2 separate regions of the Homo sapiens genome follow, and region 1 is linked to region 2. Evidence: fine-mapped QTL for protein levels in blood plasma. Region 2 holds a variant in brackets. A gene starts in the other region. All regions are shown on their reverse strands.

Evidence for each region. PIP is the chance, under the fine-mapping model, that this variant and not a neighbour inherited with it causes the effect. The UK Biobank Pharma Proteomics Project read protein levels with antibody pairs (Olink). The fine-mapping took linkage between variants from a reference panel, not from the people measured, so its PIPs are less certain.
Region 1: TSHB starts here. The variant in region 2 is fine-mapped to the plasma level of the TSHB protein (UK Biobank, PIP above 0.99).

The regions. Positions count from the first base shown.
Region 1 is chr1:115,027,054-115,032,431 of GRCh38, reverse strand. TSHB (thyroid stimulating hormone subunit beta) reads right to left here and starts at 2,606. Exons shown (of 3, transcript NM_000549.5): 1 at 2,572-2,606.
Region 2 is chr11:45,206,171-45,211,548 of GRCh38, reverse strand. All of the region lies in intron 5 of PRDM11 (PR/SET domain 11), which reads right to left. Among named protein-coding and RNA genes, the nearest start is that of PRDM11, 62 kb to the right of the region's middle. RefSeq lists enhancers at 1-653, 654-1,401, 1,402-2,149. The variant C/A (reference allele first, on the strand shown) is at 3,039.

The sequences.
Region 1 (5,378 bases), not on the chromosome of region 2:
CAATAATCAGAAGTACCAAGATTTCCCCAAATCTGTCAGTTATATCCCAACAGCATCTTTAAGCTATATACACTAAAACCTCTGTAAACTGAAACCTCATAGGTTCGGCCTTGGTTAACCAGGATTTTTTTTTCAATCAACTTATAAGAAACCATGAAAACCACATTACACAGGTTACCAGGGATTTATTTTAAATGTCAAATTCCAGAGATCAGTGGTCATTTCAATCAACCTTCTATTCCTAGAATGAGAATTGTAGATAAATTAGATAAACATATATTGAGCATCTGAACCAGGCACTGACAAACACAAACGGAAAAGCTACGGTCCTTTACCTAAAGGGCTGACTGTCCAGTGGAGGAGCTAATATGAACACAAATAATAAAAACGCAGATTGTTCTAGTGCTCTGAAAGAGTCCAAATTAAGACTTTAAGACCTACAATTATCAAAGATTTATGTTTACTATACTTCTTATTACACAAGAAAGTAAACTAACCCATTTTAGGAAGACTTAACTTTTAAAGGTTAAAATAACAGGGGTTTTTCTCACAAATTCTTTTAAATGAAATGTTGCATATTCAAACATTCCACGGAAGGTTTGTTTGGTATTTGAGTTAAGGAGCAAAAACATACAAATTCCTTACTCATGGAATCTGGCTTTCTCAAGCGCTTCTCAAATGTGAGCTCCCTCTATGGTACAGAGTTGCTTCCAGTATTTTAGAGATACAGAACTTGATGATCCTCTGTAGGATCTTAAAATTACTAACTGGTAAATTATGTAAAATGCTTACCCATCATGGCCATTATAGTTCTTGCTTGTTTAGACAGCCAGCTACTGAGTTTTTTCTATAGGAAACAACTAACTTCACATATTTTAACTTTTAGCTCTATAATTCTGTATAAAATCAATGTGGTGACCTGGTGATGAAAATATTGGTCTAAAAATTAAGAAACAGAATTCTTCCATAAATCTATGAGAACTTGACTAAAATATATAATCTGTTTGAGTGTTATTTCCCCATCTGCAAAATAGAAAGTGACAAGTACACCTGACCCTTTTTAAAATGTAGGATGAAAATTTGTTTTGGTTTTCCTATTGTCATACTAACTATGGATACTCTATATTTTTTTGAAGTTTCTCCTATAAATGTAGAACTCTAAACTAACAAAAGTAGAAAATGGAAGTGCTGAATTACCAGCCACAGTATCTGTACAACTTTGTGGGCATAAAGAAAGCAAGAACTTTTCTTTTCCTTTACTTCTTTATTGCGAATAGTAAAACTTCACCCACAGAATCTTTCTGGGCCTCAACTTTCTCACCTATAAAAGCAGGGCTTAGAGCCAGAAGATGATCATGAAAATCTTCGCAGCACAAATAGTCTGTAATTCTATATGATAAATTAGTGTCAGATCTGATTGATTGATTAAGAGTTAGTGATCTAAATTCTACTTAAGGATTTAATTGTAATTGTGTGCAACTGAGCAATTTAATATCTTTGTGCCTTCATTTTTCCATATGTCCCTTCCTAAAATCATAAAAAGAATAAAACAATACATGTGAAACACTTGGCTCTCTATATAAGAAAGATCACATAGCTGTATAACACTGTACAAATCCGCGTTAGTTAATCCCTTCCTCTGTGATATGCCACAATTTCTTCCTCATTGTCATCTGGGTTCTCATCTTTGCCACTTAATTGCTTATTCTGAAATCACCATGAATAATTTGTTGGGTACCTAAACATAGAAGGCATGGTTTCAGGCAGGGCCTAAATAATGAGATGCCTTCTTCAGATGCATGGACATATATGTCCCTACTTTGAACGTATTTTCTTATTCCAAGATATGTTCTTTCCTTTGCCTCTTTCCTCTCTTTTTTTCTCTTATTTTTGCTCCCAATGCTTCATTCTTAATAAACACTTTCCTCTCTGCTCTGCTAATTTCCTTCATTAATTTTTACTCTCCAAATCCCTTACTATGAAAAGAACTAATTGCCCATCCTATGAATAATCCTGGAACTTCACTAAAGCAGTATATTTTTCTAGAAAGCAAAATGTACTATACAGCAGCTGTGTGTGTGTTGAACACTATCAAAGGAGGTTTAGCTATTAAATAACTAAAAAGAACTTATAATACAGAGTACATTACCCCAGCAGGTACTCAAAAATGAATTTGCTCTAACATTCCCGGAAGTACATTTTCATAAAAGATGGCCATTAGTACAGTAATTGAGAGGATTTAATACACACATCATTAAATGGACAACAATATTTAAATCAAAATGAAAACAGAAGAAAGCCATGAATATCAAATATCCTTCATTAGGGAACTAATCAGTTGTTTCTCTTTCTTTAAGTCAATGAATTTTTTCCTTATCCTTATGTAGGTAGTTCTCTCACCTCCATCTACTACTAAACAATTTGGAGCAGTAATTTAAGATATTACAGCCTGTTGAAGCAAATTATCTTTCAGCATTTGCCACTTTCTAAAAAATGATAAAATGGTGAAAGTGAAAAAAAATAGCTTAAGAACATATCATTTCACAGAGCCTTCTCACTATAGACACCTACCTTACTTTGCATTGGTGAGCAGATGCTGTGGTGACCCAAACTAAAAGCTCTTGGTTCATTTTATACCCTTCAGGATAATCCCTCTGATCTTCTTGTTTATACAATTGCATTTGATTTACTGCTTTCTTATCTGAAAAGCATCTATTGAAAATTCATACTGAATTCCAAATAAAATGTATTTAGACAAACAAGCTCACAATATCTTTACCTGGAAACTGACATTATTAAAGCATGCATTTTCCTCTCTTCTGTTTCAAAATAAAATTACCTTTTAAATATATTCTTTATTAATATTTATTTATTAATATTAATAAAAGATAGATACAGAATGGGAAAAACCAAATTCAAAAAACACTCTAACATCATCTAAATAAGTCTTGGGAATAAAAATTTATTTGGGGCTTGAGGGCTTCAAGTTTTACCTAAATGTTCATGTAAAGATATATAAAATTATTCCTCATCTAAAAATTTTGTTTAGAACAAAATGTGTAGTTCAAAATATTTTTGGGGGATTTTAAGATATTAAGTAAAATTTACACATGTGAAAGAATGACTCTGAGGAACATGGCCACATCTGACAGGATGTCAAGCTGACCTGAGATAAAATTTTGGCCCTGCCATTTACTTGCCATATGACATTGGCATGCTTGACCTCTTCAGTTTCTATTAAAAGGTAATATCACTTCTCTAATGATTTGTGGTGTGAGCATTTTTTCATATGCTTATTGGCCATGTATATATCTTCTTTTGAAAAGTGTCTGTTTATGTCTTTTGCCCACTTTTTAACGGGGTTCTTCAGTTTTTGCTTATAAATTGTTTAAGCTCCTTATAGATTCTGGATATTAGACCTTTGTCAGATGCATAGTTTGCAAATATTTTCTCCCATTCTGTAGGTTGTGTGTTTATTATGTTGATAGTTTCTTTTCCTGTTACATCAGGTAACAAAAGTACACGATCCTAGAGAGATGGGAAACAAACAGGGAGAAACTGCCTGGAGAAAGTTTCTGGGCCATAATGCAGAAGCCCTTTAGTTAAAGGTCCCATTTGTCAACTTTTGTTCTTGTTGAAACTCCATTTGTCGTCTTCGTCATGAAATCTCTGCCCGGTCCTACATCTGGAATGATATTTCCTAGGTTATCCTCGAGGGTTTTTACAGTTTTAGGTTTTACATGTAAGTCTTTAATCCACGTTGAGTTGATTTTTCTATATGGTGTAGGGAAGGGATCCAGTTTCAGTCTTCTGCATATGGCTAGCCAGTTATCTCAGCACCATTTATTGTACAGGGAATCTTTTCCCCATTGCTTGTTTTTGTCAGTTTAATTGAAAAAAGAATGATTGTCAAATCAGGCAGCCCTCAGAATCAGAAGAGATTCACAGAGCTCTGCTCCTCAATGTGGGCAGACAGCATTTATGGACAGAAAGTAGAAATGAGATATCGAAACAGCTTGATTTCATTATACATCAGCACTTGCCTTACTTGGACAAAGTCTGATCAGCTGGCTGCCTGTAATTGACTGAAGCTCAGCTGCTGTGATGAGCTGAAATTCAGCTGTCTGTTACAAAAGTATACTCCTAAGTTAGGCTTTCAGGTAGTGTACATACTAAGTTAGGTTGCAGTTCATTATGTAGGAACTCACAAAACAGAGGTATCCTCAGGCCACATTTAGTTTAACAGATATATACCTAGAAATGGCCATGCCAGGGTCCAAGGTCTTGGGAATGTGAGCTACTATGTAGTAAGATAATTTTGAAAACAGGGAAACTGGAAATGAGTGTGCCAACCTAATTTCAGACAAGATGCTAACACAGGAATATGATAAATGGAAGAATGTTGGATGTGTGTTTCTAATGGAATTAGTGCCTCCTTTGTATAAAGCATTGATTCAGGAACTCATTTTCTAGCGGATTTATATACCTATCCCTGGGAGATATATGTATGTATGTGTGTGTGTACATATGTAATGGACAACTGATAGACACTTGGCCTGTTACTAAAAGAACTATAATAAATACCATGCATTTGGGTAGTGATTTTCTTGCTAAAGAGGCCTTAGTGTATATGATCTCATACTGTTAAAAGAATCCAGGCATGTTGAATTTGTGCTTCTGATCCAGGTTTACTTTCTCACCTAAAATAATTATAAAACAGTACAAAATATATAAAATAATGTCTTTATACATATTGGACATCAGGTAACAAAAGTACATGATCCGAGAGAGATGGGAAACAAACAGGGAGAGACTGCCTGGAGAAAGTTTCTGTGCCATAGTGCATGAAAAGTTACCAAGGCAGAGGCCAGAAGCATCACCAAATTGAAGAGATAGACCTGGGAGTCCATGGATCCCCAAGGCAGCTAGAGTTCACAAGAAAGACATTATCAAAAAAGAAAACCACAAACTAATAACCCTCATGAAATGAACATAGATGCAAAAATTCTTCACAAAATTTAACAAAACAAAATAAACAATATGTAAAAAGAATAATACATCATGGTCGAAGTGGAATTTATTTCAGGAATGCGAGTTTAGTTTGCATTCAATTAAGAAAATTCACCCTACTAACGGGCTAAAAACTAAAAGCCTTATGATGATCCCAATGGAAACACACACACACACACAACCACATACACAAAAAGCATTTTACAAAATCCAACATAGATTCCTGAAAAAATTTTCGGCAAACTTGGAATAGAAGAAAACCTCCTAACTTAATAAAAGGCATCATGGAAAATTTATGATTAATATCATGCTTAATATTGAAAGACAGAGTACGTTTACTCTAAGATCAGGAAAAAGGCAAAAACGTC
Region 2 (5,378 bases):
CGTGCTCCCATCCACAGGGGCCATCGGACAGACTGCTCCTTGCAGCCGGACACAGGGAGGGGGCCCAGCCTCTGCACATGTGGGTCCTGCTTTCTGGTGACCAAGGGTATGGGCTGATCCCTGTGGCAGGATTAAATGATGTATGGGCTGACCCTACTGACAGGCAAGCCCTCCCTGCCTGGATCTGCGGACTCAACTCAGAACCACCCCCCAGGAAGGTGATGGGGAGGACAGACAGGTTTATCTTACAGTTACCTCATGCCTCCCAGGGGTCCTGGGGGCTCACTTGGGCCAGCTTGGTAAGAGTCCTGTGTCTCTTGGCAGTGTTTGGTGGGACAGCAGCCATCCCCTGAGATCCCAGAGACCTGTCTAGCATGGCCAGTGTTGGAAGGAGTGAGACCCGGCGAGGTGATGCTGCTCCTTCCCTCCCAGGTCCCCGTTCTGCCAAGCCCCTGGCCGAGTGCTGCCGCAGCTGGCCACTGCCAGGAAAAGGAGGGCTGTGAGCCTGCCATGGGGGTGAGCGGGCTCTGCCTGATGGCACACTCGGGCTCCCTGCCAGCCCAGGTTACCTTTGGTGGCCTCATTACATTCAGTCTCAGGGAGATGGAGGGGTGAGCGGAGCAGGATGCAGGGAACAGGCTTTACTGGATGCTGACCCCCCCATTTTTTCTTATCACGGGGTGGAATCCTCTTAAGACTTAGGAAAACACTGATTCACAGGAAGCCAGCAGACCCGGGTTCAAGTCCTGCTTCTGAATTGAGCTCAGGGCCACCTTGGTTTTCAGAGCTTACTTTCTGCATTGCAAGGAAGTTGAACTAAATGGTCTCCATGTTCTTTTCCAGTCCTAAACATCTGACTCTGTGAACTGCCACCTGTCAGGAGCCCCAGCCAAACAGGAAGCAAGTGGATCACAATGGCAGGGGGCCCGGGAAGGGAAGGTGCAAGTGAGTCTTTGCAAAGCACCTTCCCATGGGCTGAGCCACGGCTGCTTCCCTGGGGCCCCTCCTGCCTGGCTCCCACCACTCACGAGCCGGTCAGGCAGACGGCCTCTAGTGGGGACTGCAGCTGGCGGGGCACGGGGGAGATGTGCAGAAGTGGAAAGGAAGGGTTGCAGTCCCTGCGGAGGCCTTTAGTGCTCCCCCTTCTGCTGAGCCCCAACTAGAACTCCAGCCCCAAGGGACACCCGCCTCGGCCGCTGGGGCCCTGGCTTCAAAGTGCATGTGAGACACAGGAAGTAGAGAGGAAAGGCAGGGACAAGTACAGAGGGAGAAGAGGGGTGGGGAGCGGGTGGCGGAGCAGCCAGGAGGATGGAGAGGGAGCTGAGAGGCAGCACACAGAAAAGTGGGGGCAGGCAGCGTGGCTCAGGCAGGGGAGTAATAATAGAGGAACAAAGCAGTCAGGACCAGACACAGAAAGGAACTGATCTTTCCATGGCCCGGCCCGGGCCTTCACAGCTTGGCCGCCTCGTCTCCAGCCCCCTCCCCCGCGCTGCTACACTTGGGCTTTCCTGGCTTCTCACTGTTCCTGGAACGTGCCAAGCGCCTTCCTGATGCGGGGCCTCGTACATGCTGTTCTCTGCCTGCGCGCCTCCCCTCCCCTTCTCCGCGCCCCACGCTGCTGCCTGGCCTGGTTAACTCTTACTCTTCACATCCTAGTCCGCTGGACTTCTTCAGGGAGCCCTCCCCAGTCCCCAGTGGAGCCAGTTTTACCCACTCCTTAACTCTCAGACAGAGCTGCTACATAACCTGCAGGGTCAAATGCAAAATGAAAACGTGGGGCCCCTGGCTCAAAAACTATGAAGAATGTCCAGATGGCGACAGCAGAGCCTGAAACCCCGCGGCCCCTGTGACTGTTCAGGTTGCATGCTCATGAAGTCAGCCCTGCTCTCGGGACCTCCTGGACTCCTGTGTCCTCCATCCCTTCGTTTCCAGTTTACTCGTGCAATTATTTAACGTTGGTTTATTCCTAGGAGTCCAGGGTCTCCCCAAGAGCAGGGCCTGCGTGGGGTTTACACACAGCTGTCTTCCCAGCTCCTAGCACGGCTCTGGCACGGAGATGCTCAGTAAATATTCGAGAATGAATGCAAAAAGGGATGGAGAGGAGAAGAGTGGGAGAAGGAGGGGAGGATGGAAAGAGTGGGCTGGACAGAGAGGGACAGGAGAGAACCAGAGGGAAAGTCGGTGGGAGACTGTGGACTGTAAGCTGGGGGGCAGGCAGCCGGCTGGGTGGCGGGGGGGACTGGTGATACTCACAGCTGGTCGAAGGGCTGTCGGTGCCATCCAGTTCCGCCCTGGGGAAGCCGCGCCCTGCACGGGCCGTGAGCAGCGCCGACTTGATGGCCCTCTCGTGGGCCGTGAGCACGATGGTGGGGGCCCGGCCCCCGGCCCCAGGGCCCGACAGGGACTGCTGCATGAAGGCCAGCTTGTCCTTGGTCCTCCGTTTCATGTCATCCCATCTGTGCTTAATGTCCTTGACGGAGCGGGGCACCTGGCTGACGGAGGTGATTTTCCGGGCTATGCCTTCCCAAATCTTGTCCCTGTCAGCATGGGACAGCCGCATGGTCTCCCTCCCAAAGAGCACTGCTTCATGGTGGGTCACCTCTGTGACAAGAATGTCCAGCTCCTCCTTGGAGAACTTGGGCTTCCTCTTACGCTCAGCCAGGTGTGCCACATTCCTTGGGTTGAATATCCCACAAAGCACAATTGGGTAAATGACCGTCAATGCAGGTGGTTCTCCTTCCTAATTGCTGGCCCCCAGCTGGGGAGCCAGGAGGCACCTGGGGCAACCTGGCCCCCACCACACCCTCCTCCTACTGAGAGGTCCCTTCCACTACTCCTCGGAGGGGAGGGTGGAAAGAAGAGACGGCGTTACATGGGAGGGAGCACTGAACTCAGAGTCGAAGGCCTTGGTTTCAGGGCCTGCTTTAGCTCTTACTAGCGGTGAGAGCTAGGGCAGTTCATGTTCAACCTTTCACACCTTATTCTCCCTGTCCAGAATAACAACCACAACTCTTCGGGTTTATTACTAAGGAGGGAAA[C/A]ACATCATGATGTAAGGGGCTTAAAATCTCTTAAAGATAGCAGTAAAGGATCTTATTGAAATTAGGATTAGCCCATTGCCTCTATAAAGCGATATTTACCTACAGCCCTACAGCTGAATGAATGGCTCGGAAGAATACGTAACCAGGGAAACTATTTACACTGGCTACCGTTGGGTGTAGCAGTGACAATGCCATGATTAGGGTGTGGCCACAGAAAGCTTATTCTGCCTAGTGGCTCTCTTCCCCTTCCCCGTCCCGGTCAGTTCTCCAAGCCCCCACCTTTGCATATGTGCAGGCAAACAGGTTTCCTTCCCATGGGAGTGCTTTCTTCGGGGGTGGGCTGCTGTGACTTTTTGGTAGAATTTGAGAAGCCCACGACTGTCCTGAGGGAGTCAAGTTCCACTTTGGTGGACACCAGGGGGACCTGGGATTCCCTCTCAACTGAGCAGCCAGAGGCCCTGGGCAAGGGGCACAGCATGGCCCTTCCATCCCACTTGGCTCCTGCTCTGGCTTTGGAACTTGATTTCTCCACATCGTGGCTCTGTCACCCTTTTAACTAGTGATAAAAGGTGAAAAAATCCACCCAAGAGAGGACATGAGGGTATGGAGGAAAGCTCAGAGCGCATTCACTCCTTGGTTTCCTTCTGAAACCAAGAGGGGAAGGCCGGCGGCACCAACATCCTTCAGCCCTCACCTTCCTACTCAAGCACCCAAAACACCAGGGCCCAGAAGATGGGAAGAAGGCTGGGGGCCTCATTACCCAGTCCAAGATGGTGGCAGGAATATGGGACTAGACCTGGAACTAGAGACTGAGTCTCCTTGGGCCAAGCCATGGGACTCGTGTGAACCCAGTCTCCTTCTCCATAAAACTAGGGTGACAATTCTAGTGTCACTGTCCAGGGCTATCAGGAGGACTTAATGTGGGTGTCTCAATCTTGCCACTATTGGCAGTTGGGGCTAGAAAATTTTTCGTTGGGGGGAAGGGGTGTCCTGTGTAATGCAGGATTTTATCAACATCCTTGGCTTCTATCTGATAGCATCCAACCATCAAACATGTCTCCAGGCCTTGCCAAATGCCCCCAGGGGCACAAAATAGTGCTCGGTTGAGAACCACCACAGACAGATCACCTAGATGGGGCTGTCATAAAGATAAGCTCAACACGACAGTGCCCATTCGCCTCCTGGCCCACCATTAATTTTGTTAAGAAACTAACAGAGTCCATTCAATCATCCCCAAGCGGTGCCATGACAGTGCAAAGGAGAGCATCTGCAAGTCAGAAAGAGCCACACCACGGAAGCTGGACATGAAGGGAAAGGAGGATTCCCAGGATTAACAGCTTTCCCGTCACTCCAACAGCAACAGGAGGGGCGTCTCCGTGGCAACAAACTGCATCCCTAACCCAAACCTGCTCTTTGAGTGGTCATAAGATGAGAGCCCACCAGCTGTGACTACCCAGATGCCATCTTGAATCAGGACAGGCTGGGAGCAGAACAGGACAGAAACCATGCTAGCAAGGTGGCAGTAGCAGAAACCCCCAAACCCCTGCTCACCAGTGCCCATCCAGGCCCAGGAAGCCACGCTTCACCTGGTCCCTTGTGCACAAGCAGGAAGAACACCGACCTAGGATTACAGAGCCAGGAGTTCAAATCCTGATTCTGCTACCCTGACTGTATGCTCTTAAGCAAGACCTTGCCCTGCTCTCAGCTTGACCACTGTGGCATGAAGATCTGTACAGAGCAGTGGTTCTCAATGCTAGTGGCACATCAGAATCACTAGCTTTAAAAATACCAAGGCCCAAGGCCAATCCCCAGCCCAATTAAGTCACAATCTGCGGGGTGCCAGAGGATAGATAAGTTAGTTTGGATGATAGCTCCCCTTTTTTGGGGTTTTGAGAAGGCCTTGTCCCCAGGGGGAAAGATCAGAGATGGGTGAAAGAGTGGAACAGATTCGGTTCTATGGGCAAAGCTCCCGGCGCCTTAAAAGCAATAGCACAGAAAGCCTGATTCCCAAGTGGACACACGCACGGTCTCCCCTGCTTGCCTGGAGCCAGGCTGCAGCCACAGGGCAGGCAGCACAGCAGCACAGGCTTGGGGTCCAAACTGAGCAGCCGCCCAACAGCCTGACTAGACACCACAACCCAGTGTCCCCAGACACAATCCTGGCCCCTTTGAAGGCCCATGTCAACGAACCCCTCCTCTTTCATCTGGGCCTCTGCAGCACATTGTGCCTCGGTGCAAAAACTACACTGGAAAGTCACCTCTGTGGTAGGAGGTGTGAGCCCGGGAAGGGCCAGCGGGGGTGGGGCATGGGGTGTGGTGGGGCAGGGCTGGGTGATCCAC